Linked DNA regions of Homo sapiens: regions 2 and 3 are each linked to region 1. The links come from fine-mapping of genetic effects on gene expression. A gene starts in region 1. Each other region holds a variant in brackets. All regions are shown on one strand. Distances are from middle to middle.

Region 1 (2,763 bases):
AACAATGAACCGAAAGATGAATATATTCTCTTGAATCAAAGGTCCATATAAATAGGTGGGGGAGGGGAGGAATGCCCTTCCACTCTTAAAAATTATTCTTCCTAAAAATCACAAAGTTTGGTACGACTCTCAAATAGACGATGAAATTAGGAAATTTCCAACACTGCATTTCTAACTTAAAATATTTTTTCTAAAGTAAAAAAGTACATGTTCGTTGTGTGTGTCAGAAGAAGAAATAGGAACTACAAATAAAAGAAACATGTTTAAATGACCATAATCCCAAATTACTCAGCGATAATTACTTGCTGTCAATCCTTCTTAACTTTTCCATGCATTCATAAATACGATGAGACTGTAAATAAGACAAAAAAAAAACAGACCCCGATAATGATCAAAGATCTTCGGCGCAATAGGCAATGTCTAACAACTTCAATGGCTTTCTTCAGGGGATTCTCAACGGGATTTCTTGATCTTTCCCAAAATGCTGGGAAGCCCTTTAAGTTTAAACAAACAAAACCTCCAAACGGGAAGGGATGCCAACCTCTCCTAGGCTGCCTGCAGAGCGGGGAGAAACAGGTCTATCGGAAGAAGAGTAGAGATACTCACCTAAGGAGACTCCTCTCCCGAAAGGAATCTGCTTCTCAGCCCCACCCCCAGCTCACCCCAATCCCACGTAGGTCCGCAGATGCTCCCCCCGGGAAGGACGGGACGACCCCGCAGCCGCGATTCAACGCGGCGCGCCCGGAAGCCAACAGCTACTCCCGGGCTCTGAGCGGGAAGTCCTGCTGCAGGCGCCAGCCCGGACCCGGGAATGCTCCTCCCTAGGGTAGGGAAGCGCGCGGGCGCAGGCGTTTACCTGTCTCATCTTCCCATGGTTCGGGGCGAGCAGGCGTGGACCGCGCTCTGCGCCTACCTCCCTCCTCCTTCCCCAGGAAGGCTCAGGGCAGCCGCCGACGGCTGCTTCCCCGGTTACTACAACAACCAACAAGCAACCGCCCGCTCGGAGCCACTGCGCAGGCGCTCATAACGCTCAGCTGCGGACGCGGGCGAATGTCGTCACCGCCGCGCAGCGCGGGCGCAGAGCCCTGCCCTCAGCTGAAGGGAGTCTTCTTTTTTTTTTTTTTTTCCGCTGTTTTTTTCTCCGCCCCTAAGAGGTTGACTCCAAACCCGGAGTTCCGCTAGGTCCAACAGGAGGGCTTACGGCGTGAGCGGCGTACCTGGGGAGAGGCTTAGGCAGCGGCAACCGCTGATTGGCAGTAAAGGGGTTCACTCCCCATCTCCTGCTCGGGCGAAACCGGGACAGCCAATCAGAGAGAGTACTGACGGAAACGGCCCAATCCTGGAGCAGGGCTGAGGGAGGGGGCGGGGACAAATGGCTCAGGTGGACTCCGGGCTGGAGCTGTCCTGGGGGAGCTTGTTTGCGGCAGCGGCTGCTGCTGCCACTGCTGTGCTGGGGGCCCGGTCGCCAGGTAAGGAGAATATGGGGGAGAAGAGGGATGTAGGTGTCTGTGTTGCTTCTGATTGAGAGGATCCGGAGAGTCTGGAAAAATGGAGGTGGGATGGAAGGAAGATAACTGGAAGGCAACCTTTTGGGGGGAAAAGGTTTCGAGAGGCGATGACAAGGGGGAGCTAGGAAGATGGAGAAGGCTTGGTGAATTCAAGGAACGAAGGAATGGATGAGCGAATGAGCAGCCACTATGAGCCTAGCACTGTACAAAGAGCCTTCACTTTTTGTCATATAATTCTTACAATAGCCCTTCGGGTTGATATTTCTATCTCCATTTTGCAGATGAGGAAACCGAGACTGAAAAGTGTAAATGACTTACCCAGGGTCACACAGCTACTAAGTGGTAGGGCCAGGATAAGAATCCCTTTCTCCTGATTAAGTTTTAACAGCACACCTATGCTGGGCTGGGCTTGGCTGGGCTGGGCCAGGGCCAGGACAAAATTTGGAAATAGATGTTGTATACACTCTAAGAGGCCCTTAAGCTTTAGGGAAATTAGGTTGAGAAATTGGCAGAGCAATTCAGAAGTGCTCAGGCTCTGTCCTCATCAGCTATCTGTTGGGATTTCTAACAGATAACACTTCTGTGAAATGGAAGGCATACTTGTGCAGAAAAGTGGAGAGGTGCATCCATGCAGCTTTTCTAAACCCCGGAGGAGTCTCCTCTTGAGAGAGAGTGAGAAAATAAAGAGGATGGGTGGATCTTGGCCCAAATGATAATGGCCTGTGATGTCCAGTAGACCCTCAGTCTCTCTGATCTTCGACAGAGACCACCTTTGTGATCCAGCTCTCCCTGAAGGGCTCATCAATTCACCCTTCCTTCTCTAGATCTCTTTATTGCTTGTTTGGGGCGGGGAGTTGGCGGGGGGGGGCGGCGGTGTTTCACACTGTCTTGGGCCATTGCTGACTTTAATATCTGTCCCACTGGGTAGCAGAGAACAATACCGAAACTTGTATTGCCAAAGTGACAAAGAAAGCCTGTTAGTTTATTACCACTTCAGGCCCAAGAGGTTAACCTGACAACAGATAAACCGTGGACCAAGAAAATAATAATGAGGATGGGAAAAAGTCATTCCATTATTAGATTATTTATCTATTTTGGTTTTATTTAAATCAGACTAACTGAAATTACTACTCAACAAGAGTTGAACTAAGCCTTAAAAAAAAAAAAAAAAAGGCTGGGTGCTGTAGCTCACACCTGTAATCCCAGCATTTGGGAGGCGAGGCCAAGGTGAGTGGATCAGTTGAGCCCAAGTGGA
Region 2 (2,763 bases), 55 kb before region 1:
GAAGGAAGTAACCAGGGAAAGAGAGAACTTTCCAGTGATGCTCAATATCAACAAAAGGATGCTCAGTATCAACAAAAGGACACTCAAGGCGAATGGTTATGGTAGATATCAACCCCTGTTTACATACCACTGTAACCATATCACCCTTCACTAGAGTGGTTTTCCCAAGAGGCATATCCAAGTGTGTGAAAAAAAAAAGAAGGCCACAAGTTTATTTTCATATGACTTACAAATTATTTACATATGCTTACTCAGACTATGAAGTCAACATGAATTTTCACCACATTAAAGGTCAGCATTAAAAAACTTTCCTCTTCTCTGTTTCTTCTCATCCACCCACTATCTCCACTCCCTAATTCCCTGTACCAGAAATATACAAGAGCCAAAGAAAGAATAGTGAAAAGAAAAAAAACCCCAAACCCAAAAAACTAAAATAAACAAACATGAGGCTAGGAAAAAGGATGTGGACAAAGAGAAAATGATGACTAGGCTAAAAGACAAGAGTTTGATGAGCATTATTATGTCTGTGCTTGAGAAGGACCCCAGATTTTCTAGAAACTTCCAACTTCCAGTAGTTATCACTTAACTTCTAGCCATGTCACACCCCAGTGCCCTGGTGAGTAACCCTTGCCTATGCATCCCAATCTTCCTCTAATAGATTGTCCAAGCAAGTTGCAGACTGTCATTCTCTGAATTCTTGTGAGATGCAAAGGGGCCCCGTGCTGGCTGCCTGCCTCAGCCAGACATTACCTCAAGGTGACATCCCTCCTGTCATCCTCTCCCCTCAAAGAACAATGAATTAGAAGGAGGGGAAAGCTTCTGCTTCAGAAAAAGAGGCTTTTCATCTCTTGTAGTTACTACAAGTACTTGATCTAACTTGGTCAACATGAAAAGCCTGACAAAAGTCTGTGGTGAGCTGGAATCGGGTACCAACACATTTGTCATTCCTATATTCTTTTTTTCAAGAGGGCTGCACATCTAAAAAAAAAAAAAATCATGTTTCTTCTTCCTAATCTTCCTTTTCACTGGAGCATTTTATTCTGAACCCCAGCAAGGATAAGATTTCTAATATCAAAGCGTGGAATTCTAAACTGAGTGTATGAAGCAGAAGCAGCAAAAATTAAAGTGAAACAAAAAAGCTTAAAGGAAAAGTTCCCCTGAAGGGTGAAAGTGCTCCACTCCATATCTCCCTCAGTCTAGTGGGGAACATACACTATGGAGAGAAAAGGTGTGCATGTTCATCTTTCCTCCTACCCCAGTAAGAGCTTATAGCTCTCACTAAAATCCATAGTAAATAAGCCATCATCATCATCTGACCACTATTTTCTTTTTTATTGTCTAGACCACAGGTCACATTAGTCTTGAATGTGACCTACTGGTCAAGTTCTGATTAACCTACAAAAGCTTTGTTTTTTCTTTTAAACTTTAATTACCTGAACAACATATAAAAATCAGACCTTCCTTCTTGCAGCCCAG[G/T]GGTAGCCAGGGCCCACATGAGGAAGATGGTGAGTTACAAAAAAAAAAAAAAAAAAAAAAGGAAGATGGTGAGTAGGGTGGGAAGTCAGCCAGAAGCACAAGGAGGTTTTCTAAGCAGGGAGGCCACCAAATAAGGGTATAAATCCATATAAAAACGGCATCTGAATGGGACAGTGGCCCAGTGGGGTCAGGAAACTGGCCACATACAAAGGAATTGAGCAAATAAATAAATATGTTAAAGATACTGCGAGCCAGATTTCCTGCTGTTGGAAAAGAGATTTTAAAATATGAAAAGCAAAAAACAAGAAGGAACTCTGTAGTTTTGAACTAGAATTGTGCGTACTAGTATAAACTTCTATTTTTCAACAATACATTAGAGACAGATATAGAAATACAGATGTACAAGTGTATATGTACATAAATACATAATTTCCTAACTCTGCTCATGGCCAGGGTCTGAAAGCAGAAATGCCCCAAAACAATGAGCGTATCTAGCACCCAGATATTGATTTCTAAATATTATACTCCAAGAAAAAGCAACCAGTGCTCCTTGGAGAAATGGTTGATTCCAGGGATAGAATAGAGAAAGAACAAGATGAGCCTGAAACATCTTGTGCTCAAAGAATGATAAAGACATGTCAAAAGGACACAAAGCCAGCTTGAGAGGTCTCCCACTGGCCAAATCTGGGACAATTTGAGCATCAAAATAAATCATGATAGTAAAGAATTATAACCCATTAAATAAAACAGGAACGCTTGAGTCTGCATTGGTATAAATAAATAGATGAATAAATAAACGAGAAGATAAAGCTCTTCCTCACAGAAAAATGCCAAGAAATAAAAGTTATGATGGAATTAAAAAATCATCATTTGGCAACTATTACAGCAATAATTCATTAAGGCAAGAAAAATCAATAGATTTTTCTTAAAAATGAGAAATGAGATGAAGAATGAAATTTTACATGATTTAAAGTATCTCCTTATAAAATACTTACTAATTACAAAGGGTAAGACCAAATAATTTTACAGTGGAGGAATCTAGCAGATGACCTAAAGCAAATGGTCAAACACCACTAAATGACTAGCATGTGCCATCACATATAATGCAATGACAAGAATTAGTATCACTTTTGTGGTATTCTGGCCCCAAATGCATTACCTAGGTCTCTTCATGAGAAAATATCAGACAAGCCCAAACTGAGGGACAATCCACAAAATGACTGGCCTGTAATCTTCAAAAATGCTGAGATCATGAAAGTCAAAGAAAGACTAAGGAACTGTTTCAGA
Region 3 (2,763 bases), 33 kb after region 1:
AAATAATAGTTCTTAGTATAAATATGCCACAAATATTGCATAAGACATATTTATATTAAAAGTATTTGTTGTTTATCTGAAATTCAGATTAACTGGATGGTCTTTATTTTATCTCTCAACCCTACCTCTAAGAGTGTAGCCAGAAGTCTAGGGAAAAGCCAGCAACACTTGGACCCTCGATTTCCTCCAAGGCCTTCAATTATCGCTGCACCTCAGTTCTGGGCAGTTGACTCATCAGCTGGGAGAACCACTTGAAAAGCCACTACAAATACAATACCACCAGCTGCAGGACAGTTACTCCCCCTCTTAGTGAAATCTGGTTTGGACCAAAGAAGCAACGCTGGAAACCAGTAAGTTTACCAATGCAATAGCATTGCAGTCTGGCAATGGCAGACTGGCAGTCTGGAGGCATGCCATGTCTTTATTCTCAACTGCATTAAAAGCTTTCACTTCCATTCAGAACACTCCAATGGGAAATAAGTATCATTACTGTTTTCTAGTGGGGGTGGAGAGTATTAAAGAGATGAAGGATGGGCAGCACAGATGGATGAAGGTGGTACACTCAGTATCTGGCAGAGCTGACACCAAAACTCAGACCTCCCATTTCTTATGAGCCAACTCTGAACTTACGAGTCCAGCACTCAAGGCTCTTAACCCAAGACATGTCCACCCATGTCCAGTACATGTGCCTGTGAAATGCTGTTGCCTGCTTAATTCCTAGCCACATGCTCTTTAAATGCATATAATTCAGAGCTAAATATGAACACTATGTGTACAATGTAAAAAGTATGAACCATTTTGTTCTTCAAAGTCCAATCTGAAACTGCAAGGGGATTAGGAGGACTGGGGTAATTCTGGAGGATTTCAAAGCATCTAGTTGAATTGATAGAGGGCATTTTAGAAAATTGTTTTTGTTGGGAGGCCAAGGCGGGCAGATCACCTGAGGTCAGGAGTTCGAGACCAGCCTGGTCAACATGGTGAAACCCTGTCTCTACTAAAAACACAAAAATTCCCTGGATGTGGTGGCGGGTACCTGTAATCCCAGCTACTCGGGAGGCTGAGTCAAGAGAATTGCTCAAACCTGGAAGGTGGAGGTTGCAGTGAGCCGAGATCATGCCACTGCACTCCAGCTTGGGCGACAGAGTAAGACTCTGTTTAAAAAAAAAAATTGTTTTTGTTTTTGTTTGTTTTAATTTGGAACAAACACAGTAGGAAAAGAAAGCAAAGATTAACAGTTGGAGTAAGTGCCTATAGTTCTCGCCCTATAGGCAAGAAGCTAAAACTCTAGAGCCTCAGTTTCCTCATGTATAAAATGAAACAAAGGGCTATGTCATGGGTTTGTTTTGAAAATTAAATGAGATAATGCATGTAAAGCAATTAACATGATTCCTCCGTCAAAAATTTTTTCAAATCTGTGATTAAGTCTAAGAATCATTTTCTTTTTGGCAAAGAACCCCATATGGACATCACATTCTCCAGAGTTTCCTTTCAGCATTTTCAGGCAGCCTCTTGTTCACCCCAACTGTTATCCCCACTGCAGGCAGCTACAATGTTAAGCAGTGCCATTGACTGTTTTCAACAAATGCCCTGGCAATAGGGCTTTTCCCATTAGCAAACTCCAAGTCAGGTTAAATAGCAACATGTCCTATGAATAGGGCT[T/C]TTCCGGGGACCTGCTAGGTAGGTCAAATAGTAATTCTCAGGGGTGGAGCTCCAAATCGACTTTGCTCCCTCCAATGGCTATGAGACAGTTGGTTTTCACAGCTCCACGGCTGCGAGGCTGCTGGATGTCACAGCCCCATGGCTGCAAGGCTGTAGTAGGGAGAAAGGGATTGGAATAGGGCAAGTGAAAACACAAGGCCCACTGTTGTTACTGATATTTAGCCATTTCTCTTGAATAAATGCTGCTTGGATTGTTGCAAGCCATTTGTTAAAAGTTCTGAAAAAATTCATTTGGATATTTTTTGCCATTGTTCTTGTTTCTATAGAGGAGCGGATTTTCTAAGGTCCTTACTCCACCATTCAAGAAGTGCTTTCCTATTTATTTCCTCGGTTATCATTTAATCAAATAGATAAGGAAAAGTGTCCAGAAGTACAGGATTAAAACTACTTTGTCAGATTAAAGACCACGTAAGCAAACAGGCATGTGAGAGGAAGGAGGAGGAGTAGCTTTGCTCCCCACAGCATGGCCTAGGCTTGACCCCTCGATGACCAGGAGCAACAATGTTTCTGGTACATTTTGTCTCTGTTTCTTGTTCTCATGAGTCAGTGACCTGGCCCTAAGACCAACAACCTCCAGCACTGAGGACCACAGCCTTTGGAATGGGACCATTGCCCAGTTATCACCACTGTCACCATTTTCAGCTATAGAAAATATTTATGAAGCACTCATCTGCCCTAGAATCCCAGGTAGGCCTCAAATATCCTCTTGTTAGATGCAGCAAGATTTATGGTTGTCAGAGGTCAATGCACTCATGATGTCCAACTCTAGCGAAAGTAAAAGCTCTTAGAGTCATGGAATCCTGAGTCTAGAAGGGCCCCCAAAGGCCATCTGGTTTCACTATCCATCTTTAGCCTGAGATCCCCTACAACATTCCCATCAAGTGGTTAGTCCCATCTATGCTTGAATACCTTCCGGTGATGGGGAACTTGTAACTTCCTTAGTTGGACTTCTCTAAGCATTGGAAACTTTGTCTTTATTTTGCGGATGAATGGGGAGACATACTCAGAGAATTGAGAAACTGGAGGAAATGAGGAACGGAGGAC

The links.
Region 2: its variant is fine-mapped to the expression of TTLL5 in whole blood (GTEx, PIP above 0.99).
Region 3: its variant is fine-mapped to the expression of TTLL5 in tibial artery (GTEx, PIP above 0.99).

The regions. Positions count from the first base shown.
Region 1 is chr14:75,659,481-75,662,243 of GRCh38, reverse strand. It overlaps TTLL5 (tubulin tyrosine ligase like 5), which reads right to left and starts at 998. Exons shown (of 32, transcript NM_015072.5): 1 at 857-998. ERG28 (ergosterol biosynthesis 28 homolog) reads left to right here and starts at 1,368. Exons shown (of 5, transcript NM_007176.4): 1 at 1,368-1,469. RefSeq lists an enhancer at 927-1,146 and a silencer at 1,257-1,306.
Region 2 is chr14:75,714,038-75,716,800 of GRCh38, reverse strand. All of the region lies in intron 9 of TTLL5 (tubulin tyrosine ligase like 5), which reads right to left. Among named protein-coding and RNA genes, the nearest start is that of TTLL5, 54 kb to the right of the region's middle. The variant G/T (reference allele first, on the strand shown) is at 1,477.
Region 3 is chr14:75,626,528-75,629,290 of GRCh38, reverse strand. All of the region lies in intron 3 of FLVCR2 (FLVCR choline and putative heme transporter 2), which reads right to left. Among named protein-coding and RNA genes, the nearest start is that of ERG28, 33 kb to the left of the region's middle. The variant T/C (reference allele first, on the strand shown) is at 1,660.